Homo sapiens: one gene and its partners. The protein of the gene in region 4 interacts with the protein of the main gene of each other region in a biochemical or structural test. Each region holds a gene or a part of one and is shown on either strand. Other genes may lie near its edges. The genes, in order: FYN, ACAN, LRFN1, PTPRF, LRFN5, PPFIA1 and LRFN2.

Region 1 (3,500 bases), on a different chromosome or scaffold from region 4:
AAATGTACGTGCAGCTATTCCTGCAACAGTGCTGAGGGTAAAGTGATAGTGGAAACACAATATTCCTTGTAGGAGTCCCCATGTAAGCGCCCTCCGAGAGACTGCTTTCTCACATGCAACGCGGGGAATGGGAAAAGACAACTTGAAGATGAAAAAACAAACAACTTTTAAAATTTAACCTATTGCTTTCTACTTGGGAAACAAAAATATTATAGAATCTTCGGACAAACATGTGGAACTAATAATAACAACAGTAGAACAATAGCAATAGAACCTATACAGCCAAGCCCTACCATTAAGGGCTGGCAAAGAAAACATACTCTATAAGTGATTTTGTACATATTAGTTTTACCCCTTTCCACTTTCCTGCTCTGGGCCTATCCACTCCCTCCAGCATCCAAATGGTTAGTAGGTAGTTAGAATTAAGGTTACCTGAGTAATGTTGTACAAGCTGCTGAAGTGTTTCAAACTGGGCCCGGGTGGTAATGTAGTATCCACCATTGTCAAGTTTGCGAATTTTATAATGTTTGACATGGTCTCCTTTCATATCATCCCAATCACGGATAGAAAGTGAATAGGCACCTGGTAAACGTGGAAAGCATTAGCAGCTCCAATCATTTAGAGTATCAGCTTGCTTTTTAGGCCTCATTTTCTTGACTCTGATTAATAATTACCAAGGATGCACACACACATGTACACACACACAGCATCTCCACTCAGTAACAGGAAGAAGATGCTTCTTGATGTTCTGCAAATGTCAGAATATATTAGCAATAAAATGATTCTGCCCTTGAGACTGAAAGCTTCCTGGACATTTTTCTTAAACACACTGTTCGGTACCCCTTGTTGCATAATACAGCGTAGACTCAATTCCAACACTCCTTTCCCCCAAGGGTAAAGAAGGACCACGATGAATGGCTGAGCTTGCTTCCCTTGTCTTCTCTACCCAGGGGCATACTGGGAGGTAGCAGCAGCATGTGCAAAAGAAATCTAAGGCTTGTTTCTCTAGAAGTGAGCTTCAAGCTTCTGCTTTACAACACTTTTTACAGGAATGGATAATCTGGCAAATTAAGCTAGAGGCCACTACTCTTTTCTTCCTTGACCTGTCTCCTCTTGTGGGTTGTAAGGAGTTGTTAAATAATGAAAAGTCCAACAGTTGGAGGAAGAGAAGTGAAGTCCTCAGTTATTTAAAAAACAAAAGGAAAGCAAAAACAACCTGTATGACTGGCACCTGAGGAACTAAGATTTCAGAAAATCAAAATTCTAAAGGACTTCTGAAAATTCTACGATCTTGTGTGCCTGGAGCAGTGTAGCTGCATCCAGCCCGTTTCAGGAGGAAGGTCTTGATTTGGGGCCTCTGTAGTTCTTTTGGTGCTGTCTGCAGTTTTAGAGCCTGGAGGGAAGACTGAAAACAGGACTCCACTCACAAGGCAGGGAGGGTATGTGCCATTTTAAAATCCTTGTACATTAGAGATAAGCCTTTCATCCCCTCTGACTAATCCACAGATTTGAATGACAAGCCAACTTCTTCAACTCGTTATCTTACCTTTGGTGGTTTCACTCTCGCGGATAAGAAAGGTACCTCTTGGGTTTCCAAAGGACAATAGCTGTCGCTCAGCATCTTTTCGGCCAAGTTTTCCAAAGTACCACCTTTAAATTAGATCAAGGAAAGAAAATATTTTGAAATAGTCATTTACAAAATGCAACAGCATAGGCTTTTTTTTTGCCCATGAATTCCCCTCTCCTCCAATTTAGTCCTTAACCTTTCCCTGGATGTATTTTTTTTCTAGCTTAATTCAGTTCCTTTTCAATCTATCCTGGATTCTATCCCTAATTCATCTCTTTCACTCTTTAAAAAAAATCAGATTTGAGTTGTGGGTTGTTTTCCTCCCCTCTAGACATGACCAGAACTGGTTTGTGTTAAAACTGCCACCTGTATGCAAAAAACCAGAAATCTAAGACCTTGATTTGAAATGGTTACTGCAGGAGACCCTTTCCACACTTATCTAAAAGACTCTAGTCTGGGCATGGTGGCTCATACCTGTAATCCCAGCACTTTGGGAGGCCGAGGTGGGCAGATCACCTGAGGTCAGGAGTTTGAGATCAGCCTGGCCAACATGGTGAAACCCCAGCTCTACTAAAAATACAAAAATTAGCTTGGTGTGGTGGTGGGCACCTGTAATCCCAGGTACTCGGGAGGCTGAGGCAGGAGAATCACTTGAACCTGGGAGGCCCAGGCTGCAGTGAGCTGAGATTGTGCCATAGTATTCCAGCCTGGGTGACAGAGCAAAGCCGTGTCTCAAAACAAAACAAAACAAAAAAAACAAACGCCAGGCATGGTGGCTCATGCCTGTAATCCTAGCACTTTGGGAGGCCAAGGTGGGTGGATCATGAAGTCAGGAGATGGAGACAATGCTGGCTATCATGGTGAAACCCCATCTCCACTAAAAATACAAAAAATTAGCTGGGTGTGGTGGCATGCACCTGTAATCCCAGCTACTCAGGAGGCTGAGGCAGGAGAATTGCTTGAATCTGGAAGGTGGAGGTTGCAGTGAGCCAGGATTGCGCCACTGCACTCCAGCCTGGGCAACAGAGCGAGACTCTGTCTCATAACAAAAAATAAACAAAAAAACAAAACTCTTGAATCTCTTGATATCTAAGCATTATTGTAACTGCTGGGAAATAACAAAACACAGTCTTAATGTATATGAAGATAATCAAGCATTAAAAAAAGTCAGATTAGATAGATATGATATGAATAAAGGAATAGTATTTTCAATAACTTCCTCCCTATAAGAATTCTGAGAAAAACGCCCATGAGTACTTACTTGTATTTTGTTTTCCTCCCCTAGGTGTGTGAGGACTTGGATAAGTAAAGGCATTTATTTACCAAGCACCTGGATTGTGATCTGTGTTCATCATCTTCTTCTTCTTTTTTTTTTTTTTTTCTTGAGACAGGGTCTCACTCTGTCACCCAGGCTGGAGTGCAGTGGCATAATCATAGCTCACTGCAGCCTTGACCTCTCCAGGCTCAAGCAATCTTCCTACCTCAGCCTCCTGGGACTAAAGGTGCACATCACCACACCTGCTAACTAAAAAAATTTTTTTTGTAGAGGCTAAGAGTGGTGGCTCATGATTGTAATTCCAGCACTTTGGGAGGCTGAGGCAGGCAGATCACCTGAGGTCTGGAGTTCGAGGCCACCCTGGCCAACATGGTGAAATCCCAACTCTACTGAAAATACAAAAATTAGCTGGGCATGGTGGCATGTGCCTGTAATCTCAGCTATTCGGGAGGCTGGGGCACGAGAATTGCTTGAACCAGGGATGTGGAGGTTGCAGTGAGCTGAGACAGGGCCACTGCACTCTAGCCTGGGGACAGAGTGAGACTGTCTCCCTATGTTGCCCAGCATGGTCTCAAACTCCTGGGCTCAAGTGATCCTCTCGCCCTGGCCTCCCAAGTGCTGGGATTACAGGAGGGAGCCATCACGGTGGACCCTGTA
Region 2 (3,500 bases), on a different chromosome or scaffold from region 4:
GTTGGGGATCTCAGTGGACTTCCTTCTGGAGAAGTTCTAGAGACCTCTGCCTCTGGAGTAGGAGACCTCAGTGGGCTTCCTTCTGGAGAAGTTCTAGAGACCACTGCCCCTGGAGTAGAGGACATCAGCGGGCTTCCTTCTGGAGAAGTTCTAGAGACCACTGCCCCTGGAGTAGAGGACATCAGCGGGCTTCCTTCTGGAGAAGTTCTAGAGACCACTGCCCCTGGAGTAGAGGACATCAGCGGGCTTCCTTCTGGAGAAGTTCTAGAGACCACTGCCCCTGGAGTAGAGGACATCAGCGGGCTTCCTTCTGGAGAAGTTCTAGAGACCACTGCCCCTGGAGTAGAGGACATCAGCGGGCTTCCTTCTGGAGAAGTTCTAGAGACCACTGCCCCTGGAGTAGAGGACATCAGCGGGCTTCCTTCTGGAGAAGTTCTAGAGACCGCTGCCCCTGGAGTAGAGGACATCAGCGGGCTTCCTTCTGGAGAAGTTCTAGAGACCGCTGCCCCTGGAGTAGAGGACATCAGCGGGCTTCCTTCTGGAGAAGTTCTAGAGACCGCTGCCCCTGGAGTAGAGGACATCAGCGGGCTTCCTTCTGGAGAAGTTCTAGAGACCGCTGCCCCTGGAGTAGAGGACATCAGCGGGCTTCCTTCTGGAGAAGTTCTAGAGACCGCTGCCCCTGGAGTAGAGGACATCAGCGGGCTTCCTTCTGGAGAAGTTCTAGAGACCGCTGCCCCTGGAGTAGAGGACATCAGCGGGCTTCCTTCTGGAGAAGTTCTAGAGACCGCTGCCCCTGGAGTAGAGGACATCAGCGGGCTTCCTTCTGGAGAAGTTCTAGAGACTGCTGCCCCTGGAGTAGAGGACATCAGCGGGCTTCCTTCTGGAGAAGTTCTAGAGACTGCTGCCCCTGGAGTAGAGGACATCAGCGGGCTTCCTTCTGGAGAAGTTCTAGAGACTGCTGCCCCTGGAGTAGAGGACATCAGCGGGCTTCCTTCTGGAGAAGTTCTAGAGACTGCTGCCCCTGGAGTAGAGGACATCAGCGGGCTTCCTTCTGGAGAAGTTCTAGAGACTGCTGCCCCTGGAGTAGAGGACATCAGCGGGCTTCCTTCTGGAGAAGTTCTAGAGACTGCTGCCCCTGGAGTAGAGGACATCAGCGGGCTTCCTTCTGGAGAAGTTCTAGAGACTGCTGCCCCTGGAGTAGAGGACATCAGCGGGCTTCCTTCTGGAGAAGTTCTAGAGACTGCTGCCCCTGGAGTAGAGGACATCAGCGGGCTTCCTTCTGGAGAAGTTCTAGAGACTGCTGCCCCTGGAGTAGAGGACATCAGCGGGCTTCCTTCTGGAGAAGTTCTAGAGACTACTGCCCCTGGAGTAGAGGAGATCAGCGGGCTTCCTTCTGGAGAAGTTCTAGAGACTACTGCCCCTGGAGTAGATGAGATCAGTGGGCTTCCTTCTGGAGAAGTTCTAGAGACTACTGCCCCTGGAGTAGAGGAGATCAGCGGGCTTCCTTCTGGAGAAGTTCTAGAGACTTCTACCTCTGCGGTAGGGGACCTCAGTGGACTTCCTTCTGGAGGAGAAGTTCTAGAGATTTCTGTCTCTGGAGTAGAGGACATCAGTGGGCTTCCTTCTGGAGAGGTTGTAGAGACTTCTGCCTCTGGAATAGAGGATGTCAGTGAACTTCCTTCAGGAGAAGGTCTAGAGACCTCTGCTTCTGGAGTAGAGGACCTCAGCAGGCTCCCTTCTGGAGAAGAAGTTCTAGAGATTTCTGCCTCTGGATTTGGGGACCTCAGTGGACTTCCTTCTGGAGGAGAAGGTCTAGAGACCTCTGCTTCTGAAGTAGGGACTGACCTCAGTGGGCTTCCTTCTGGAAGGGAGGGTCTAGAGACTTCAGCTTCTGGAGCTGAGGACCTCAGTGGGTTGCCTTCTGGAAAAGAAGACTTGGTGGGGTCAGCTTCTGGAGACTTGGACTTGGGCAAACTGCCTTCTGGAACTCTAGGAAGTGGGCAAGCTCCAGAAACAAGTGGTCTTCCCTCTGGATTTAGTGGTGAGTATTCTGGGGTGGACCTTGGAAGTGGCCCACCCTCTGGCCTGCCTGACTTTAGTGGACTTCCATCTGGATTCCCAACTGTTTCCCTAGTGGATTCTACATTGGTGGAAGTGGTCACAGCCTCCACTGCAAGTGAACTGGAAGGGAGGGGAACCATTGGCATCAGTGGTGCAGGAGAAATATCTGGACTGCCCTCCAGTGAGCTGGACATTAGTGGGAGAGCTAGTGGACTCCCTTCAGGAACTGAACTCAGTGGCCAAGCATCTGGGTCTCCTGATGTCAGTGGGGAAATACCTGGACTCTTTGGTGTCAGTGGACAGCCATCAGGGTTTCCTGACACTAGTGGGGAAACATCTGGAGTGACTGAGCTTAGCGGGCTGTCCTCTGGACAACCAGGTATTAGTGGAGAAGCATCTGGAGTTCTTTATGGCACTAGTCAACCCTTTGGCATAACTGATCTGAGTGGAGAAACATCTGGGGTCCCTGATCTCAGTGGGCAGCCTTCAGGGTTACCAGGGTTCAGTGGGGCAACATCAGGAGTCCCTGACCTGGTTTCTGGTACCACGAGTGGCAGCGGTGAATCTTCTGGGATTACATTTGTGGACACCAGTTTGGTTGAAGTGGCCCCTACTACATTTAAAGAAGAAGAAGGCTTAGGGTCTGTGGAACTCAGTGGCCTCCCTTCCGGAGAGGCAGATCTGTCAGGCAAATCTGGGATGGTGGATGTCAGTGGACAGTTTTCTGGAACAGTCGATTCCAGTGGGTTTACATCCCAGACTCCGGAATTCAGTGGCCTACCAAGTGGCATAGCTGAGGTCAGTGGAGAATCCTCCAGAGCTGAGATTGGGAGCAGCCTGCCCTCGGGAGCATATTATGGCAGTGGAACTCCATCTAGTTTCCCCACTGTCTCTCTTGTAGACAGAACTTTGGTGGAATCTGTAACCCAGGCTCCAACAGCCCAAGAGGCAGGAGAAGGGCCTTCTGGCATTTTAGAACTCAGTGGTGCTCATTCTGGAGCACCAGACATGTCTGGGGAGCATTCTGGATTTCTGGACCTAAGTGGGCTGCAGTCCGGGCTGATAGAGCCCAGCGGAGAGCCACCAGGTACTCCATATTTTAGTGGGGATTTTGCCAGCACCACCAATGTAAGTGGAGAATCCTCTGTAGCCATGGGCACCAGTGGAGAGGCCTCAGGACTTCCAGAAGTTACTTTAATCACTTCTGAGTTCGTGGAGGGTGTTACTGAACCAACTATTTCTCAGGAACTAGGCCAAAGGCCCCCTGTGACACACACACCCCAGCTTTTTGAGTCCAGTGGAAAAGTCTCCACAGCTGGGGACATTAGTGGAGCTACCCCAGTGCTCCCTGGGTCTGGAGTAGAAGTATCATCAGTCCCAGAATCTAGCAGTGAGACGTCCGCCTATCCTGAAGCTGGGTTCGGGGCATCTGCCGCCCC
Region 3 (4,015 bases), on a different chromosome or scaffold from region 4:
ATGAATGTCTCTTGGCCTGAAACCCCCCACCTGCTCCCCAGAGCCACCTGGCCACCACAAGCCCTCACCCAACTTTGATGTTCCTGACCTTGTCACCACTCCCCAGCCTTGGACAGAGTGGTGGGCAACTGGTCCTTCAGGAAACTGTCATCCCCTGAACTGAAATCCATGCGAGGCAGGGTTCCAGACCCCCAGCTGGCTGACAGCAAGCCCCATCACCCCCCATGTCTCTCTCTCTCTGAAGCCTTACGGCTCTACTCACCTCTCTTCAGGGAGTCAGGGCCTGGGCCAGCACCTGCAAAGGAACAGAACCACCTTGTTAGCATCGTTCTGGCTCTTCTCTGTGCACCAGATCTTGCCTTGGAGACCATCCCGGCCAAGGAAGTCCCTGGTGTGATCACGCTCTCAGTCCTCCTGTGGCGGGTTTTGCATAGTCTCACAGGAACCCAGAAGTCCTCTCTGGAATCCTAGATTAGGCCTCAGGGTTGTTCACCCTCCAAAGCCCAGGAGTCGAGGACTTTAGCCCTTTGTCCTCTGGGGTTTCAGGAGCCAAGAACCCCAGCCCCCTCTTCCCTCTGACCCAAGAGTCCAGACCAGACCTCTGGCCCTCCATTAGAACCCAAGAGTTTACATCCCAGCCCCTCAACTCCAAAGTCCTGAACGGTACCAAGAGCTGGGGAAGGGCCAAAGTTTCCCATCCTTGCCATGATACTATTGCCCACACCAACATGTGTGTCCATGTCAGAACCCACGCAAGCCCACAACCCAAGTCTCTACATCTGGATTTCTATGAACATAGCAACATGATCTGTGTGCCCTCCGCCCTCTATGGGCACTTGGCCTGGCATATGGACACACTGTGTCCAGGGACCCCAGGCGGGACCCCAGTATACCAGAGGTCATGCCACATGGGCCTCAAACCCACTGAACCCAAGAGTAGGGACAGCCTTGTGCCAGGGCACAGACACATGTGTCTTTCACATACATGTCTGAACATACACAACCCCCAGAGACCAACACCAAAACACAAACAGACTCACAACATAGATGGATACATACCCTCAAGGTTGACACACCTGCATGCAACAATACATGTACAACACTGACTCTGCCATGCAAGTTCACACACACAAATGCACAGATACAACAGAGAAACTCATGTGCCCCCTAACAGACAACCAGGTACATGCATTTACAACAGATCTACCTTGCACACTCACCAGCACACAGGGGCACACACATCTAACAAACACACACACACCTGTGCAAACATACACAAGTGCACACTCTTAAATGCCTAGACACACTCATACTTCACACATCTCCATGTTGCAAAGTTGATACAGCACCACGCTAACAGATACATACCTCACACACACACACACACACACAAAACCACAAGCATACAGATACGAGGCTGATCCACACTGGAACACGCACACAGGCACAAAAAGATCCACCTTTGCAGACACGCCAAGATGTTCACTCATAACAGACACATGCTCACACAACAGTCCTGTGATTTACACACTTCCAAATGCATAGAAAATACTGAACCACAGTAGCACAGTCAGTAGACAGGCCCAGATTCACACTCACACAGTCTTGGACACACATTCCTCCCAGCCCTGAGGCACCCCCCCACCACCCCACCTACTTACTTCCCAGGCCCAAGAAATCCTAACATCCCTGCAGCACATTCAGCATCCTGCCCTCCACACCCCCAAAAAACCAGGGCAAAAGCCAGGCCAGAGGTCAGAGTTCAGCAGGTGGAAACTCAAGAGGATTTGGGGGTTTGAGTCCTAGATCACCGTTTCAAGGAGATCCTCCCACCAGCAGCCCCAAAGGTTCCCCAGCCTGGCCATCAGGATGGAGGTAACTCTGGCTCCGTCTGCAGATGTCTGGCCGGTGGGGGAATTAGGGTGGAGTGGGTGGGGAAGGGCCGGGTCTTCGCCCCCCAACCCCCACCTCAGGGCCCATCTGTCCATTTCTCGGCCTCTCATCCCCCCTCCATCTGTCCACCTCCTGGCCGCCCATCCCCCCCCCGCAACCACCGGGAAGGGGAAGACATGGCCGCTTCCCCCAGGACCGCTAAGGACCCCCCAGTTGACATGGACCGAGGGAGCGGCGAACTCCCCTCCCCCAAATCCACACCGAGGCCTGGGCGCCGAGCCTCAGCCCCCAAGCCAGCAACCTGCCGTGGACTCACAGATACACACCCTCGGAGACATACAACCCGCAGACACACACACACACACACACACACACACACACACACAAATGGACACCCGAGCGGGCACACCCGGCTCCACAGACCCGGGGATGGACATCCAACCCGGACACAAACACCCAGAGCAGCTAGTCGCGCACGCACATGGGCTTGGGGGGGACCCACACCTGGGCACACAACCCACGCACACACACACCTGCACACAGCCCCTCCGATGGGCGCGCGACAGCGCCCAGACACACAGCCGGAGGGGCGGCCGCTCGGGGGGACACGCGTGCACAGCCGGACACGCCGGCCGGGCTCGACACCCCGCGCACACCCGATGGCCACACGGGCAGGGCGCCGCACACGCCGGCACCGGGCACACATAGGGCCGCGCGGGCGCACGCCGGGCCCGCCGCAGCGCCACGGACACACACTCGCACGCTCGCACGCTCACACCCGCGCACACACCCGCGCCCCCGCCCGCCGCTCCCGGGCCGCTGCAGGCCGCGCTCACCCAGCCCGGGGGGGCCCCGGGCCCGGCCCCGCCGCCGCTGCCTCGCTCCGCGCCATGGTGGGGGGAGGGCCGGGGGAGGGGGCGCGGTGCCGCGGGGCCGCCTCCCTCCCGCCTCCCGCCCTCCCTCCCGAGCCGCAGCCGAGCTCCGCCCTCCGCGCCGCCCGCCGCCACCGCCGCCGCAAGGGGGGAGGGGGCGCCGACTGGTGGGGGCGGCCGGGCGGGGCGGTCGCACACCCGGGATCCCCGCCCCGAACCCGCCGCAGACCCCTCTCCACTGCCGAGCCGCCGCGGGCCCGCCCCCGACCCTTCCCCAGCCCCACCCCCAGCCCCGCCGGCCTCCCCGGAGACCCCCCCAGACCACGCCCCAACTGGCCTAGGGACCCCGGATCTCCCTACAGAGACCTCCCATCACGTCCTAATACCCAGGGGGACCTCGGATCAGGCCTCACCTCTTTTGAGAACCCAGGCGATGTTCTAGGGCCACCCAGGACCACAAATCATGCCCTGCTCTCCTGCTTGACCTCAGACTATGACCCACACACTGTCAGGAACCCCAGACCATGCCCCCAAACCCAGAAGAATCCCAGATCATATCCCAGCATCCAAGGGGATCCAGACCACCCCACCAGCAACCCTAAATCATATCCCAACATTCAGATAGACCCCCAGACCACACCCCTTCCCTCACGGACCCCAAATCATACCCTAACATCGGGGGAGACTTCAGACCATATGTCAGCCAAATCCCAGATGGTGCCTGACTCCCTTTGGGGACCCAAACCACATTCTACAGCCACCAGAACCACAAATCATATTCCACTCCTTCTTGGGGACCCCCAGCCATGTCCTTCTACCCTCAAGGACCCTAACCCATTCCCTTACCCCCAGTATGAACTCCAAACCATGCCTAACTTCTAGGGGGCCCTAAAATGTCTCTTATCCCTATGGAAGACCCTTAAACTTTCCCCATGAACCCCATTAGACCCCAAACCATCTTCCACCCCTTTGACCTTACACCTTTCTCTCTCCTTCTCCTCCAAGACATCCTTTGGTTTCCAAAACTCCCCAATTAGCCCCAATTTTTTCCCACCCCCTACTAGTCCTGCCCCCTTGAGGACCCTGCCTCCTTCTTGCTCCAGTTCTTTCTCTTGGACCCTGAAAGTCCCCCCTCCCTGTGACTTCCATAGAGCCCAGAATGCCTTGCTCCTTCCTAGTTCAGACCCCTTTGCCCATCCCCTGTCCCATAGCTGAACCCCACCCCTTCCCTCAAACCCCACTGAGTATCT
Region 4 (3,500 bases):
CTAGAGAGGTCGAGCTGGAGGCCCACAGGCCATGGATGCTCACTAACAGACATGACTGATGGCCTGCTGTGCCCGTGCCATCCGCAGCGGCCTCAGCCTCAGTGTGTCTTTCCCACTCAGTTCTCTATCGGCAGTGGCCACCACCTGCCCTAGGAGTCTCCCTTCCTATCCGTGCACCTTCCAGCCTGAAAGGGATTTCCAAAGATTTAACTTTGTCACTCTCAGTTTAAAACCTTTTGATGGCTGCCCACGTAAAGCCCACCCTCTTTAGCCTGACAGCCAAACACCTGGCTAATCTGACCCCTGCCACACTCCTGACATTGCGACACTGAACTCATTCAGTGTTCAGGCCCACACAGGGTGTGCCCTCTGCGGATCTCCCTCCCCCTGCCCACTTGGCAACAGCAATCTCATCGTTCAGGACTCAAGTCCATGCTCTGGTGCCTGCAAGGCCTTGCCTGGCCCCTACCCCTTCCTTGCACAGCTGTCCCCTGTGATGCTCCACTGCAAACGCAGCTGGGCCTGTGTGCCAAGCCTTCAGCCCCCAGCACTGGGCTGAGCCCACAGGCATGTCAGTGAGCACCTGGCAGATGAAGATATGCTAGTCTGTGTGTCTGAGCACATCTCTGCACCATGCAGGAGAGCCTGTATCCTGTGTGCCTACCCTGGACCCACTGTTCCTTCCTAAAGAGTCCACTCCTTCCTCCCAGGGTGGATGGACCTGTGGGCGGGTCCCTAAGGAGTGTCCCACAGATGCACTCATCCTTCCCACTTCCACCTGCATTCTGGGTCTGTCCAGAGAGGTAGACCCCCTCCCTGTGAATGTCATGTGGGTGCCATATAAGGGGCCTGCAGGGTCCCCATGTCATTAGAGGGCTGAGTGCTTGGTGGAAACTGTGACCGTTCCTTTCTTCTGTCCTTGCTTGTCTTTCGGGACCTAGTAAACAAGAAAGGTAGGAGTTGTTCCTTCTCTCTTCACACACCTCCCCCTCTACTTCTAATCCTTGGGCCAGCAGGGAGGGATGACGCTTTGACCAGAAGTCCCCTGGCCTATGGCTTTAAGCAGCAAACTGTCCAGTCAGCTCAGCAGGCTCCCTGGTTCAGGACTGAGTCCTCATTGGTGTGAGGAGGCAGTTTCTGTCTCACTCTTGCCAGTTCAACTCTGCAGAGGATGCTTCTTCTCTGGGGCACATACATAATACAGACTGCATTGCTTTCCCTGAGCGTACAGAGCTCACCAGAACCATCACCCGGCTCCCAGTTCTCTGAGAAGTTGCCTAAGTGCTGCGAGAGACAGTCTCGCACAGAGCAAAGAGCAGTCACTGTGTGGAACAGCAGAGAGGCATGTCCTTGTACCCACCTGAGCACACTCACTCAAATTCTTCTTTCCGAAGCACATGCGTCTGCAGACCACAAGTAGCCTCTGGCTATTTGTTGGCAGCTGAATCCTATGGTCTGTCTCTGACCCTGTCCTTGTAGATGGGAAAACTGAGGCCAGTGAGAGAGGACTCTGCCCAGCTAGGGTGACGCCTTTCCCGTCCCTCCCCTGCTGCCCTGGGCATTTACCCTGATACTCTGAGGGCCAAAAAGCTGGGGCCCTGTCTCCTGTGCTGTTTGTGTATTTTATGTGTCATTTGCATGTTTGTTCCCGGTGGTTCCTGCTACTCAGCTGGGTGGCCTTGGAGATAGCAGTCACTGTCCTGCAGTGACCTGCCTTCTATCCAAAGGAGCTGCTCGCCCCTGCAACCCCTTCCTCCCTGCTGCACTGCCCCTCTGCTCACGCCACACTCCTGCTCTCCCTACCCCCTCCCTGCCCTGTGTTCTCTCATGTCAAGGCTGTTCTGGCCCTGGCTCCTCCGCGCTCAGAGATCCTGGGAAGAGGTGGGGCAGTAGGAGGACAGAGCCGTGGACATGGGGGCTCCTTGGCAGCCAGCCATGCCATGTGTCACTGTCTCAGCCTGGACCTCAGGTTCTCACCAGCCTCCCTTCTGTCTCTCTAGGAAAAGGACCCACTCTCCGTCCTCTAAGGATGAGCAGTCGATCGGACTGAAGGACTCCTTGCTGGCCCACTCCTCTGACCCTGTGGAGATGCGGAGGCTCAACTACCAGACCCCAGGTAGGGCACTCCTATGGCCTGTGTGCCCCCAGCCCAGACCTAGCAGGCCTGTGGGTCTGTTCTGCAGGTCTCAGGGTCGCCACTGAAGTTCCTGGGCCGCATGCACTTGTTCCTGCTCCTTTTCTTCCTTTCTGCCCTTCTCCCTGTGCTCATCCACTTTGGTTGGAATGACTGGGGAGCCCCCATATCCTGCAGCTGGACAGGTGCCCCAGGCCAGGACCCTCTTAGGTGGCAAAGCCACTTAGCCACTGCCTTGTCTTCAGTCAAGGCCTCTGAATATGGGCTGAGGACCTCCCAGAGCCCACGTCTCTGCCACAGGGTGGCCAGTGTCTGGCGCACGCTCTGACGCCTCCACATGAAAGAGGGGCATGTTAGCAGTGGGAGATGCCTCACCAGACATCTGTGGGGAGATGAAGTGCCTGCACCTGAGCCTTCCTGGAGGCCGACCCCAGGTTTACCATACCACGTACCTGCCCCTTCTCCTAGCCACTCTCATGGGGCTGTCCACCTCTTCCTTCTACCTGAAATGTTACTCCTCCCAACACCCAGCAGACACAGCTCAGACCTCTCCTCTTGCCCACACCCCCACAGGGTTAGGTGTCTCTTCTTGGCTCCAGGAACCTCCCTCCTTCTTCCTTTTGACGCCTCTCACAGTGAGCTGGGATTACCTCAGTGACAGTCTCTGAGCTCTGTGGTGCCAGGAACTGTGTCTTGTCATCCCCCATCCCTTGTATTCAGCGCACGATGGGTTCTTGTTGAATGCCTGTGAAATGAACACACAGACAAATGAAGGAATGAGTGAACTAATGCATACACACAGGGTTTGTGTATGTATGAGCTGGTTATTCTGCATGTCAAATTACCCCAAAACTTAGTGGCTTAAAACAACAATAATTATGTATTATCTGTCACAGTTTTTGTGAGGCAGGAATTCAGACAGGGGCACAGCAGGAACAGCTTGTCTTTATTCCAGAAAGTCTGGGCCCTCAGCCGGAAGACTTGAAGGCTGGGAGCTAGAGTCATTTAAAGCAGGGGTTGGCAGACTATGGCCCGTGGCCAAGTACAGCCCACCACCTGTTTTTGTAAATAAATTTTTACTGGCTGGGCGTGGTGGCTCATGCCTGTGATCCCAGCACTTTGGGAGGCTGAGCCGGGTGGATCACCTGAGGTCAGGAGTTCGAGACCAGCTAATGAAATCCCATCTCTACTAAAAGTACAAAAATTAGCCAGGTGTGTGGCCCCTGTCATCCCAGCTACTCAGGAGGCTGAGGCAGGAGAATCACTTGAACCCAGGAGGTAGAGGTTGCGTGAGCCAAGATCGTACCATCGCATTCCAGCCTGGGTGACAAGAGCAAAACCCCATCTCAAAAATAAACAAATAAAT
Region 5 (3,945 bases), on a different chromosome or scaffold from region 4:
CAGACCGTCTTCACTATGGAATAAAACATTGATGAGACTACTTTGGAAGTGCTTTATCTTGTTAATTCTAATGTCTTCGAGAAAGGAGTGAAATTTTCCGATGGGGGCGGGCGCTGAGATAAGACGAAAGGGAATTCAGGGGAAAAAAAGGCGCCAGGGTAAAGGGCTTTGGAAGTTAACTAAATTTGTTCTGCTTCAGCCGGCCATGGAAATCTCATTTTAACATACCAGACCCAATATGTTAATTAGGCAGTCGCAAATCCAACCTGCTCCTTGTAAATCAAGGCACCGGAAAAAAAAAATTCAAAATATCTATTATACAGGGATAAAACAAACAAACAAACAACAACAACAAAAAAACGCGCAAAGGAGTTGCGTGTCCGTGACGGGGACAATACAGCTGGAGAGAATGTTGGGTGGTGGCTATCGTTTTAGCCTGGTTCTGCTAGATATAAAAATGACTTCTTTCATGGATTTATTCTGCTACATAAAAGCACGTCCTGGCAGTTAAACACCATATCTCAAGACACACAGCCGTGACAATATGTATTCCCTTTCATGCAAACCAAGTTCCAAGAAAACTCCATTTCGAGTCAAAGTCTCCAGATGCGTAATTTACAACTACTAAAAAGATCTGGCAAGCTCCTCCACAACAAGGAAAGGAAAACAACCTGGCACCAGAGGTAGAAAAGGGTAGAAAAGATCTTTGGTTTAAATGATGGGTGGAAACCAAACACCCACTCACACTTCACAATCTGGAAAGGGTTGGGTACCAAATGGTCCGTGGCAACCACAGCCTGAAGGAAACACAGAATTTTGATCTCTGGCATCTTCAGACAGGTTCCACACGCCTAGCTCTCAAAAAATATCCTCAGGGTGGAGCACATCCATATTCTCAAAGCTTTCACTACTAGATTAAGTGCTTAGGTATAGATTTATATTTCACCTACTAGAAATCGTATTACAAAATCACAGAGCAGGCGCCCTTGGATACCCAACCCTTCCCAATGATTTTCAAAACATTAATAAGTAAAGTAGCCTGCAATGCAGATAAGACACTAGAAACAAGATCAAAAGGAAATTGGGTGAGGCGAGTAATCGTTGGTTTGTTACCTGGTGCCTCTAAGGGAAAAGACGGTCGTAGGAAGACTTTCTGCCTGCAGGTACAATCCCGGCAAGGTGGCTCCAGGTGGCTTTCACAGTCGTACGCGGGTCTCGCTCGTCACTTCGCTGCCCTTTGCCATAGCTCAGCACCCGCATCGTAGGGAATCGGAAAGGCGGCTCCTGCCACTGCCGCCGCTGCCCGCAGGTCGCTCTGGGTGGGGGAATCGCTGCAATCGCCCCATGAAACCCGCGGCTCCGCGCCCGGGGAGCGGGCAGAGGCAGGGCGGCCGCGCACGCACACACAGACACACGCTCACACTCACACACACTCGCACCCGGGCGCGCGCGCACTTGCACTCACACTCGCACACGCACACCCAGCACTGCACGGGGAGGAAGCAGCACGGAGGGAACCGGTCCTTCTCACGATTGGCTTCGAAGCCCACCGGACCGCGGGCAGCAAAGAGAGCGTTCTCGCATAGCCCTTTAATCACGTTTCCTTCAAGTTCTCCTCCAACCCGAATCCACGTAATTCAAGAGCTGGTGACATTTTGGTGGGGAGGAGGGAGCCGAGAAAGGGCTGAGGAAGAGTCGGGGATTTTGTTAAGCAGTTTAATAAGCAATCCTCATTACCTTATTTGTTTTGTTTTGTTTTGTATAGCAAACCAGTTCGAAGGGCTGAACTTTTGGCTTCAAATGCTGTGAACCAAAACGTAAATATCCTTCTGGCCAAGAGAAGAAGGTGTAGATACACGGAAACAAGAGGGCTGCAAGACACTCTCTTGACCTTGTGATGTACCTGGAAGCAGGTTAATATTGGCGCTTTCCAAGCTTCTGGGTAAAGCGATCCACACACCTGGGTCCACAGCCCAGCAGCCGCTCCAAATCCAGCCAGGAAAATGGGTCTGGGCGTCCTCAGAGCTCTGCAAGAACCCGGGCATGAAGGGGCATCGCCGAGTTAACACATTTGCTTCTGGGCAGTTGGATAAAAGACAGTCAAATGCATCAGATAGGCGCGCGCGTACACACGCGCGCGCACACACACACGCAGCTAGCTGGAAAGCGGCTTACAAAACACTAGAGACATGCCAAGATGACTTGAAAAGGTAGCCAACATCCAGGATCTTTCCGGAACACAGAAGGGCCAGCAGGGAGGTTATCAAAGTCTTCTCAAGTCTTTCAATTCTTCCTCTCTCCTCTGAGTGTGTGTGTGTCTGTCTAGGTTTCGTTGGTCTGCCCCACCCCCGTCCAGTTGCGCTTTTTTTTTCTGATATAACGGACCGTGCAAAATGGATTATATGGGTGGGCTGTGTTCACAGCCAGAGCTCCCCAAAGTCAAGGATCCTAAGGGAGCAGCCAGCTGCTAAACAATTCACATCCTCAAGGGAAGAAGGAAAAACACGCTCAAACACACGCAAACACGCGCACACACATACATAGTCCTCCGTTCGGGCAGCTCTGCACACGCTCACCGCCTCCCTGCGCGCCGCGGAACACAGCGCCCCGCCCGCTGGCCACCGCGCTGGGGCGAGTCCGCAGTTCAGGCGCGAGGCAAGCAGCCGAGGTCCGGGGCTGCGGCCGCGGCCGGGGCGGACCCGGGAGCTGGGCTTCCCAAAGCGTCGCGTGTGGGCAACGGCGGCCTCCTGGCCGCGTGGAACTGAGCCCTGCGCTGCAGCATGAAGGCGGCGGCGGCGGCGGCGGCGGGCGCGCGGCCGTGAGCTCAGCCCGCGCTGCAGTGACGGGAGCGGCCGTGTCGGCCAGACCCCGAGAGTCCGTGAGACCCCGGCCGGGGCCGCTCCGCTGCTGTCAGCCCTCGGGCCTCCCAGCCAGACTGGTTCTGAACCGATTTATCAGGGGGTTGCGGAGAGGGCCGGCGAAGCGCCAGGAAATCCCCAGGCTGAGGAGGCGCGGGGGCGTTGCAGGAAGGGGGAAGGGAAAAGGCAGAAAACCTGGAGAATGAAAGCGAACTTCCAGGGGCGTCCCCAGCCTCCTGCAAAAGGGCAATTTGCTGATCGCCCACTTCCTCGCAGTTACGGGATAGAGAGAATCATCACTGAGTCAAGCTTCGGCTGCTTAGGGCGGTGGGAAAAGTCATTATCTATAATAACCCGCCGGAAATTTTGAGGAGAGCTACTGACTTGGGGGTTTCAGTCATCTGAGGCTGGCTTCCGCTGTCCCCTTAGTTGTGGGTGGTGATTTGCTTACTAATCAGATGGGAGCGGATTCTGAAAAGAACATTTATATTTGGGAATCAACTCAGCTCAGCATCAGACATTACGAATACTGCAGTTGGTCACATTTTACTATGTGAAGGGCAGAAAGGGAGCCCAACAGTCTTCATAAGCCAGACCTAGTCTCTAAGGTCACCGGCACAGACGCAGGGTCTAAAGCAGGAAAGAGGTGCGACTGGAAAGGAGGTTAGACAGGGCCCTGCGGGAATGGATCTGCCCGGAGCCCTCGCCTGGTTTTGCTTGAGACTCCGACAAGACTCCCAATGCTTCTCTCCCCGACCCTATCCCCACTCCCTCCATCCTGGAAAAGCCAGTGAGCAAAGTTAACTCTTTCTTCTAAGAAACCCTGAGTGAAATCTTGCTCTTCCTTTCTGCTAGAGTCCTGAAACCCTTTCGCTTCTCATTGTGGGTTCACCAGCACGTGGTCTTCGGACACTGAGAGCACCTTCGCTCTCAGCTGTGATCCTAGCTAGCCCAGACACCAGTCTGTACCCAAAGGAAGAGTAGGAAGTTGCAAAGGGAAGCTGGCTAACAAGGGCTTCTTCTGCCCTACTTGGCAAAGGCCCATACGGGTGGCCTCCGTGGATATGGAGCTCCTTCATTTTGTTCC
Region 6 (3,500 bases), on a different chromosome or scaffold from region 4:
AATAAATATAAATTAAACTGAAATATATAAAACAATGACACAAAAGGTAGGAGGGAGTTAAATCCAGTTCAAGTATCTAAGGACTTGACCCTGGGAGACACAATGAGACTGTGCCTGGAAAAAAAAAAATATATATATATATATATATATATCTCAATCAAACAAAAAAAAAGCAAAAAAAAAAAAGTAGAAATTAATGCAATAGAAAACAAATGTAAGTAGAAAAAAATGTAAAGCCGAAAGTTGGTCCCTTAAAAGAACTTACAAAATTGACAAACCCCCAACAAGACTGATTAAGAGATAATATATGAATTACTGATATCAAGAATTATTAAAAGGGAACATCACTACAGATCTTGCAGATAATAAGGATTACAAACCACTTTAAACTTACAAATTGGAAAGTCTGGGTGGCCTGAACAAATCTCTAGCGGGGAAAAATGCTTTATCTAAATAGACACATGAAGAAATATTCAAAATCCTACATCTACCTATAAAATTAATTCTAAAATTTTTCCTTCTCACAAGGAAAACCCTGTACCAGCTGGTTTTGCCAAAGAATTATTTCAAACATTTAAGGAAGAAAACACAAATTTCGTAGGAACTCTTCTAGGGAGTAGAAAAAGAAGGAATACATTCCACCTTGTTTTAAGAAACCAGCATAACCTTGATACCAAATCCCAACAAGGGTACTGAAGGAAACTGAAATTATAAGTCAATCTTTCTCGTGAATATAAATGCAATAATCCTAAACAAAATACTACCAAATATAATCCAGTAAAAGGAGAATACATCAAGATCAGGTTGGAATTATTCTACAATTGTAAATTTTTTTTAAAAGGGAGGTGCTCTTTCTCAGGAGCTCCTGAAGTTGCTTCCCCAGGCTACAAACAATATGCAATTAAAAAAAAAAAAAAAAGCAAGGCGCAGTGGCGTGCGTCTATAATTCCAACTACTTGAGAGGCTGAGGTGGGAAGATCACTTTAGCCCAGGAGTTCAAGGCTACAGCGAGCTATGATGGTGCCACTGCACTCCGGGCTGGGTAATGGAGCAAGACCCCATCTCAAAAATAAACAAACAAAAACAGTTAAATTCCCACATAACAGAAAAATCACATGACTGTCTCAAAAGATGCAGAAAATCCATGTTAAGAAATTTAATACCTGCTCATGGTTTTTAAAAAACTCTTGGCAAACTAAGAAGAGGAGAATTTTTACATTTTGATAAAGAATATCTACAGGGCCAGGTGTGGTGGCTCACAGTGGTAATCCCAGCACTTTGGGAGACCAAGGTGAGAGGATCGCTTGACACCAGGAGTTGGAGACTAGTCTGGGCAACCGAGTGAGTACCCTTTTCTTAAATTACCAGATCTCAAGACAGACTATATCTATGGGAATTTAGACATTGTGCTATTTGTGCAAAGATGACAAAAAGATCAAAGGAGCAGAAGAGAGTCCAGAAACAGACCCACACACTTACAGTCACTGGACTGAGATGACACTGCATGTAGTACACTGGGGAAAGAATAGTCTTTTAAGAAATTATGCAAGGTCAACTAGATATCCATTTAAAAAAAGAAAGAGAGACTCTTGGCCCCATCGCATACCATAAACAAAGTCAATTTCAGATGGAAGATTAAAAAATAGTTTTTAGAAGACAATGTAGAATATCTCATGAACTTGACCAAGCAAATTTCTTAAACAGGACACAAAGAGCATTAAACATTACTGAAAAGATGGATCAACTGGGCTACATTAAAAATTTTACACTTCTATGTATCAAAAGATACAACTGAGAGAGTGAAAAGGCAAACACAAGAGTCTAAAAACAATCTGTCATGCACATATGTACTCAGAATATAGAGAAAACTCCTTCAAATCAGTAAAAAACAAAACAGACAACCCAATCAACAGATGGGCAAAAGATAACCGTTTCACAAAAGACATCCAGGTGGCCAGTGAACACAGGTAGAGATGCTTTACCTCTGCATGTTCCTGGCCATCAGGGAGCAGCAAATTCAGACCATACTGAGCCACCTACCAGCTAACAGCCACCAGAACAGCTAAAATGTAAAGACCCAACAATACCAAGTGCTGAAGAGCATAGGAGCAACTGACTTCTCATACATTGCTGGGGTAGTACAAACTGTCACAACCACCACTTTTGGCACTCTCTACTGAGGCTGAACAAATGCACACACCATCATTTGCATTCCACTTCTTTGTAGAAATCCAACAGAAGTGTACACATATCCTCCGGCCTGGGCAACATGGTAAAACCCCACCTCTACAAAAAATACAAAAATTAGCGGAGGGTGGTGATGCGTGCCTGTATTCCCAGCTACTTGGGAGGCTGAGGCAGGAGAATCGCTTCAACCTGGGAGGTGGAGGCTACAGTGAGCCGAGATCATGCCACTGCACTCCAGCCTGGGCAACAGAGTGAGACCCTATCTCAAAAAAAAAAAAGTTTATAGACATCTGCACCAAAAAACAAACAATATTAGGGGAGCACGTGTAAAAACTGGAAACAACCCCAAATGTCTGTGAGCAGTAGAAAGAATAAGTTCTGTCTGTTCGTGCACGGGATGACCAGAGAGCAGGTGAGAATGAGCAAGCTGCATCTCACAAACATGATGCTGACGACAGAATGAAGAAGCAAAACATACAGATTATTTTACTTCACTTAAACAAAGTCAAGAACAGGCAAAAGTAATCAATGGTGAAAGGTCAAGACCTTGGTTAGCTCTGGGGGACAACTACTGGGAATAGTTAGGAGGGGACTTCTAGGAAGCCTGATAATGTTCCATTTCTTGATCTGGGTGGTGGTATGCAAGTGTGTTAACTTTGTGAAAAGTCCACTGAGATGTATACTTACGATTTGTGAATTTTTCTGCTGTATGCTATAGTTATGTATATTTTTAAGTACACTCTAACTTGCCTCCACAATGTGCCAGGAGCACAAATGCACTTCCTGGACTCATTATCTGGTCACACTACCAGCCACCAAAGATGAACCAGATGCCAGGAAAGGGAAGGGTCCAAAACAAGTTTACTTAATAGTTTCCATTTTTGAAAGGCTGGAATCAGGTGCTCAGGTGGTAACGTGAACCGTTGGCATCATCATGTTATCCACTGAACTAGGCATTCCCAGGCTGCTACACTGAGCAGTGCCAGAAACAAATCACTGAGCAACCATGTCACCAGTGTGTGTGACAACCTCCACAGCCTGCGACTAACTGTACAAAACTCCTGTCACTTCCCTGACATGTCTTGTGTGCCCATTCTTTCCAAAACCTACCTTATTAAGTATATTAGTATTTGATATACACTTCAATACGTGTACCTTAAATTACAAATACAATAAAATCCTGGTAAAACATAAATTGGCTACTTCTTTTAAAATTGTAGTAATAAAATTCAACATAAATAAACTTGGTAATTTATAAGATTGAAATAAGAAAAATCTTAATGATTCTTTAATCCAACAAAAAAGGAACATAG
Region 7 (4,294 bases), on a different chromosome or scaffold from region 4:
TGCTTCCAGTCTAGCAGCCTCCCCCATCAGACTGTGAACTCCCTAGATGCTAATATCTACCTTAGGAAAGGGGAGTTTCTGAAAACAATTAATTCCAATTTCACTTCTCCACTGTCCCTGGGTAGACAGACCCCACGCCAGGAGCTTATAAGCCTCTATACATCCACCCTGCAAAAAAGGAGAGCAGAACCTGCTCAACCCCACAGGCTGAAGAGGCTTGGCAAACTGGCACTTGGAGGCCAGAATCCCTGTTTTTTTTTTTTCCTTTGGAGCTGAAGCAAAGATAAGAAGAGCAATTCCTCCTTCAGTCAAAGAAGGACTCAGTTGGCCAGAAGGCTGCCTGGTTTCCCCGGTGGCCCCACCCACTCTGACTGCATTTTCTTCCCATCTATCTTGCTTCTCCTCCTCAGCCTCACCTCCTGGAAGCTCCCAGCTCACCCTCTCTCAGGCCAGACTCCCCAGCTTCTCACGTTTCTGGGCCTGAGCAAAGAACTGGCACTTCACAGAAGAAGGAGCCCTGAACCCCAGCCTCCAGCCCACAGCAGGCAGGCACCCAGTTCTTCTAGACAGGAGATGGAACTGGGAGCCAACCTTCCAGAGGCTGAAACAGAAATGCCAAGTTTGCTGTTTGCATCCCCAGGATGAGGGCAGGAAGATAAATAATTACATTCCTGGTCAGGAATTAGACCAGAAACTCTAAATTGAGGGCTGGGCAGGGGGCCTGAGCAGAAGCATGTGAGGAGGCCAGAGGGAGATGCAACTCTGCACTCCCAGCCAGAGTCAGAAGGGAAAGATGACATTCCAGCATCAGCAGAAGGGCCCAGGCAGCTGGCATGGTCGGCGGAGGATGACGGCTCCAAGTGCAGGCCTTTTGGAGCTTCTGAATCCTCCCTACAGGACTCTGACCCCCTTCAGCCTCTGATGTACCCCACAAGGAAATGACACTACCCTCAGGGCTCTGCTGTGTGTGGCTATATAAAGCTCCTGCCAGAGGGCAGCGACCAGACCAGGGCACAACCCCAAGACCTAGTTCCCTTGCTCCCCACCTTGAGTTCCAAATCGGCCCCCACACAAGAATAACAGCCCACATAGAACCTCTAGCCCTGGCCCCTGGGAACTTCACAGCCCAGGGAATGGCAGTTTCCTCCCTAGCTTTGCTCCTCCCCAGCAGCAGGGGGTCAAATTCCTGAAGCTTCCCCCTCCCCCAGTACTAGAAGGCCAATCAGGCCATGGAGGCCACAGCTGCCACCTCCCTGAAACATACACATGCGTACACACACACACGCGTACACACACACACACACACACACACTCCATTGTGGCCAGGGGAGGGGGTCATCATCTATAGCCATGCCTGTAACTCCAACTCAAGAGTGCAGGCTCTGACATGTTCCCTGTCCCTGCAGGTGTCTGTCCGTCTGCAGCTGTCTGCTGTCGCCGGGTGCATTTGGCAACAGTCTGGCTCAGTCCCTCTGCGGTCTCCACTCAGGCTCTCTTCTCCCTCCTGCTCTGGTTTTCAGAGGCTCTATCTCCCTAGAACTCTCTGTCTCTGTCCTTTGTACCGGGCTGATGGGAAGACGAGTAGGACACCTCCCTCAGAAGGTCTGTGCAAAGTAAGGCACTGTCCACCTCGGAACGGTCTACTGCTCTCCCTCCTCCCTGCCCAGGCCAACCTTAGAACCAGGGCAGGGCTGGGTGGGAGACAGAGACCTAGGAACCCAGGCATGGCTAATGCCACTTTCCATATTGCTTCATCATGCCATTCTGATGCCCCAAGCTGCACACACACACAATCCCCCTGATCTGCTTTCTGCCTGAGGCCAGCATAGGGTCCCTGAACCTGCCCTACCTGCCCCCACAAACTGCAACCATGCCTTCCTTCCTCCCATCCGCTCTGCATCAACCCTTCCGCACTTGGCTTTACCCCACCCCACCCAGTCCACAGAGCTCAGGGAGTCCCCGGCGCCCCCACCTAGCCCCCAGCAATGGCTCTAGCCAGGCCTTGCATGTGCGGAGATGCAACAGAGTGGTCTGGCGGCAAAGTTCTCCTGCTGTTTTCAACGGTTCCATCCACCCGTGGCTCCCCGTCTCTCCATCCGGCTCTCCAGTCTCACATGGACCCGGCTCTCCCCGCTCCCCGCCAGAGTTTCACCCCCACTGTAGGAAATAAAGACTAAAGAAAGGAAAGGAAATCTCTCGCGATAAGGATGGGCGAAAAGAGAAGGGGGTGTCCGCATGAGCACCTAGGATGCGGGGAGTCTTCAAGAGAAAAAGAAAGGGATGCAAAGTTCCCGGTTCCCTCGGGTGCGTTCAGCCCCGCGCCGAGCTCCCGCGGACACCCGGGATCGCAAAGACGCAGCGCCGGCGACCACTCACCTGGGCGAGGCAGCATCTACCCCCGGCTGGGTGGCACCGAGGCCGGCTCCGCGGGGCGCCCGGGCTCCCCGGCTCGGCCACGCATCCTTCCCCGCCCGAGACAGACTCGAGCTAAACCCTCCGGCGGCTCCGGCGAATGCAGGCAGATGGTGGCCTCGGACGTCCACGCGGGGAAAGCCCTGAGCCGCTTATTCAGTTATATCCATGGCATTTAGCAAGAAGAAGGGGGGAAAAGCACAACTTGTTCTCTTCTCTTCCAGATTAAAGAAAAATAATAATAATAATCCCTCCCTAGGAGGATGCCGGTAGGATTTTCCGGATCGAAGAACCCCAGGCATTCCCAGGAACCTCGGGCATCTTGGAATGTGGGGTGTCTTCAAGTTCAGACGAGCCTGCCGGGTTGTGTATGTGTGAGTGTATGTGTGTCTCAGCGAGAGGGAGCCAGGCACTCACACCCACACGCACACACAAACACACTCCCCCGTACTCCCCGCATGCACACTGCCCCCCACGCGCGCGCGCATACGCGCGTACCCGGTTTCTCTCTCCGCTCCACACACACACACACACACACACGCACACACACACACACACGGATCACACGCTCCAATCTGGGAGGGAGTCGGGCGGGCTGCGGAGACAGCGCAGGGCCAGCAGTGGAGAAAACCCAGCGGCCAGAGGCGCCCAGGAACCCGGCGGCCGTGCGCACCGTCCCCGCCGAGCTCTCCGGCGCGGCAGCCCCCAGTGGCGAACCGCGGAGCTGCAGGAGCCGAAGGCAGCCTCTGCGCCCGCTGCCCTGCCCGCTGCCGAGCGCACCCGCTTCCGAGACGACCAACACCGCCGCGGAAACCAGAGGGATTCACGGTCCTGGCAGGGGTGGCGCGGGGACGCACGGTGGGGCGGGAGTGGGCTGGGGCCGCAGTCGCGGAGGGAGGTGGGCAGGCCGCGAGCCCCGGAACCGGGAGGGCGGTCTCCGCGGTCCAGCGGCACGGGCAGCCCCTGCGGAAGGCGAGCCGGGCGGCCAGGGCTGCACCTCTGCAGCTGGCGACGGCGCTGCCACCTCACGTGCCTAGCGCGCCCTGCAGCCGTCAGCCCGCCGCCTGCTGGAGGAAAACCCGACCGCGCCGGCCCTAGGCTGGGAGTGGGGGCTGGGGCGATCGCGCCCACCCAGTCCTGGGGCCCAGTTCAGATTCTCGAATCCTGGTAAGGGACCTATGAATAACGAGCGCCCCGTGCACGCACACACACGCACTTTGACTTTTCATGATTATTACAAGAATCAGTGAAGGGTGCAGTGGCGCCAAGTGTTTGCACAGCATCTTTACAACTCTTCACTTGTTTGATCTTCTCAGCAACCCTCATTTGATGTATAAGGAAACTGAGGCCCAAAAGAGTAAAGTGACTTGTCCAAGGCATGTGGTAGGTAGCGGAGACCCTACTCAAAGCAGACTGTGAGCTCACAGTCAGAACACCCAGGTCTGGCCAAGGTCTCGTCTTTGGTTATCCTCTCGGTTCACTATAAACAACTAGTTACCAGAAAGGTAGGACCGTCCTCTGCCTTACTGGACTCCCCAAGAGGCATTTCCTTCCTTCTAAAGGAAATGAAATTTTGAGATTCCTGTTGGTACTCCAGCTGGTAAATCCAGGGGCAGGAAGAATGTCAATGTTGCAGTCCTTCTCTTCTCTCCTGGTGGCTAACACATCCCGTGCACCTGTCCCGGTTACCCACAGGGAGGCACATGTTGCATGTGGATGTGTCTCTGCAGCCCAGGATTGGCTCGGCTGGATACATCTGTAACATACGACCCTGTGTCCTCTCTACACACATGCATAACTGCAGAAGCCGAGGCAGCTGGTCCTCATGTGTGCACCCTCCACATGTGCACCCCGGGAAACTGCCAAACTGGCATGCTGCATA

The links.
Region 1: the proteins of PTPRF (region 4) and FYN form a complex in vitro, tested with the Homo sapiens proteins (one study listed by BioGRID).
Region 2: the proteins of PTPRF (region 4) and ACAN form a complex in vitro, tested with the Homo sapiens proteins (one study listed by BioGRID).
Region 3: the proteins of PTPRF (region 4) and LRFN1 interact in a biophysical measurement, tested with the Homo sapiens proteins (one large-scale study listed by IntAct).
Region 5: the proteins of PTPRF (region 4) and LRFN5 interact in a biophysical measurement, tested with the Homo sapiens proteins (one large-scale study listed by IntAct).
Region 6: the proteins of PTPRF (region 4) and PPFIA1 form a complex in vitro, tested with the Homo sapiens proteins (one study listed by BioGRID).
Region 7: the proteins of PTPRF (region 4) and LRFN2 interact in a biophysical measurement, tested with the Homo sapiens proteins (one large-scale study listed by IntAct).

What each region holds. Positions count from the first base shown.
Region 1 is NC_000006.12:111,702,453-111,705,952, forward strand, and holds part of FYN (tyrosine-protein kinase Fyn), read right to left. Parts: intron 1,651-3,500; coding exon 1,547-1,650; intron 583-1,546; coding exon 433-582; intron 1-432. UniProt on the Homo sapiens protein: Non-receptor tyrosine-protein kinase that plays a role in many biological processes including regulation of cell growth and survival, cell adhesion, integrin-mediated signaling, cytoskeletal remodeling, cell motility, immune response and axon guidance.
Region 2 is NC_000015.10:88,855,436-88,858,935, forward strand, and holds part of ACAN (aggrecan core protein isoform 3 precursor), read left to right. Parts: coding exon 1-3,500. UniProt on the Homo sapiens protein: This proteoglycan is a major component of extracellular matrix of cartilagenous tissues. A major function of this protein is to resist compression in cartilage. It binds avidly to hyaluronic acid via an N-terminal globular region.
Region 3 is NC_000019.10:39,318,064-39,322,078, forward strand, and holds the start of LRFN1 (leucine-rich repeat and fibronectin type III domain-containing protein 1 precursor), read right to left. Parts: upstream 2,801-4,015; 5' UTR 2,730-2,800; exon of another isoform or gene 2,427-2,729; intron 296-2,426; 5' UTR 263-295; intron 1-262. UniProt on the Homo sapiens protein: Promotes neurite outgrowth in hippocampal neurons. Involved in the regulation and maintenance of excitatory synapses. Induces the clustering of excitatory postsynaptic proteins, including DLG4, DLGAP1, GRIA1 and GRIN1.
Region 4 is NC_000001.11:43,607,383-43,610,882, forward strand, and holds part of PTPRF (receptor-type tyrosine-protein phosphatase F isoform 1 precursor), read left to right. Parts: intron 1-941; coding exon of another isoform or gene 942-953; intron 954-2,000; coding exon 2,001-2,116; intron 2,117-3,500. UniProt on the Homo sapiens protein: Possible cell adhesion receptor. It possesses an intrinsic protein tyrosine phosphatase activity (PTPase) and dephosphorylates EPHA2 regulating its activity.
Region 5 is NC_000014.9:41,605,731-41,609,675, reverse strand, and holds the start of LRFN5 (leucine-rich repeat and fibronectin type-III domain-containing protein 5 isoform 1 precursor), read right to left. Parts: upstream 2,801-3,945; 5' UTR 1,114-2,800; intron 1-1,113. UniProt on the Homo sapiens protein: Cell adhesion molecule that mediates homophilic cell-cell adhesion in a Ca(2+)-independent manner. Promotes neurite outgrowth in hippocampal neurons.
Region 6 is NC_000011.10:70,273,690-70,277,189, reverse strand, and holds part of PPFIA1 (liprin-alpha-1), read right to left. Parts: intron 1-3,500. UniProt on the Homo sapiens protein: May regulate the disassembly of focal adhesions. May localize receptor-like tyrosine phosphatases type 2A at specific sites on the plasma membrane, possibly regulating their interaction with the extracellular environment and their association with substrates.
Region 7 is NC_000006.12:40,584,565-40,588,858, forward strand, and holds the start of LRFN2 (leucine-rich repeat and fibronectin type-III domain-containing protein 2 precursor), read right to left. Parts: upstream 2,801-4,294; 5' UTR 2,377-2,800; intron 1-2,376. UniProt on the Homo sapiens protein: Promotes neurite outgrowth in hippocampal neurons. Enhances the cell surface expression of 2 NMDA receptor subunits GRIN1 and GRIN2A. May play a role in redistributing DLG4 to the cell periphery.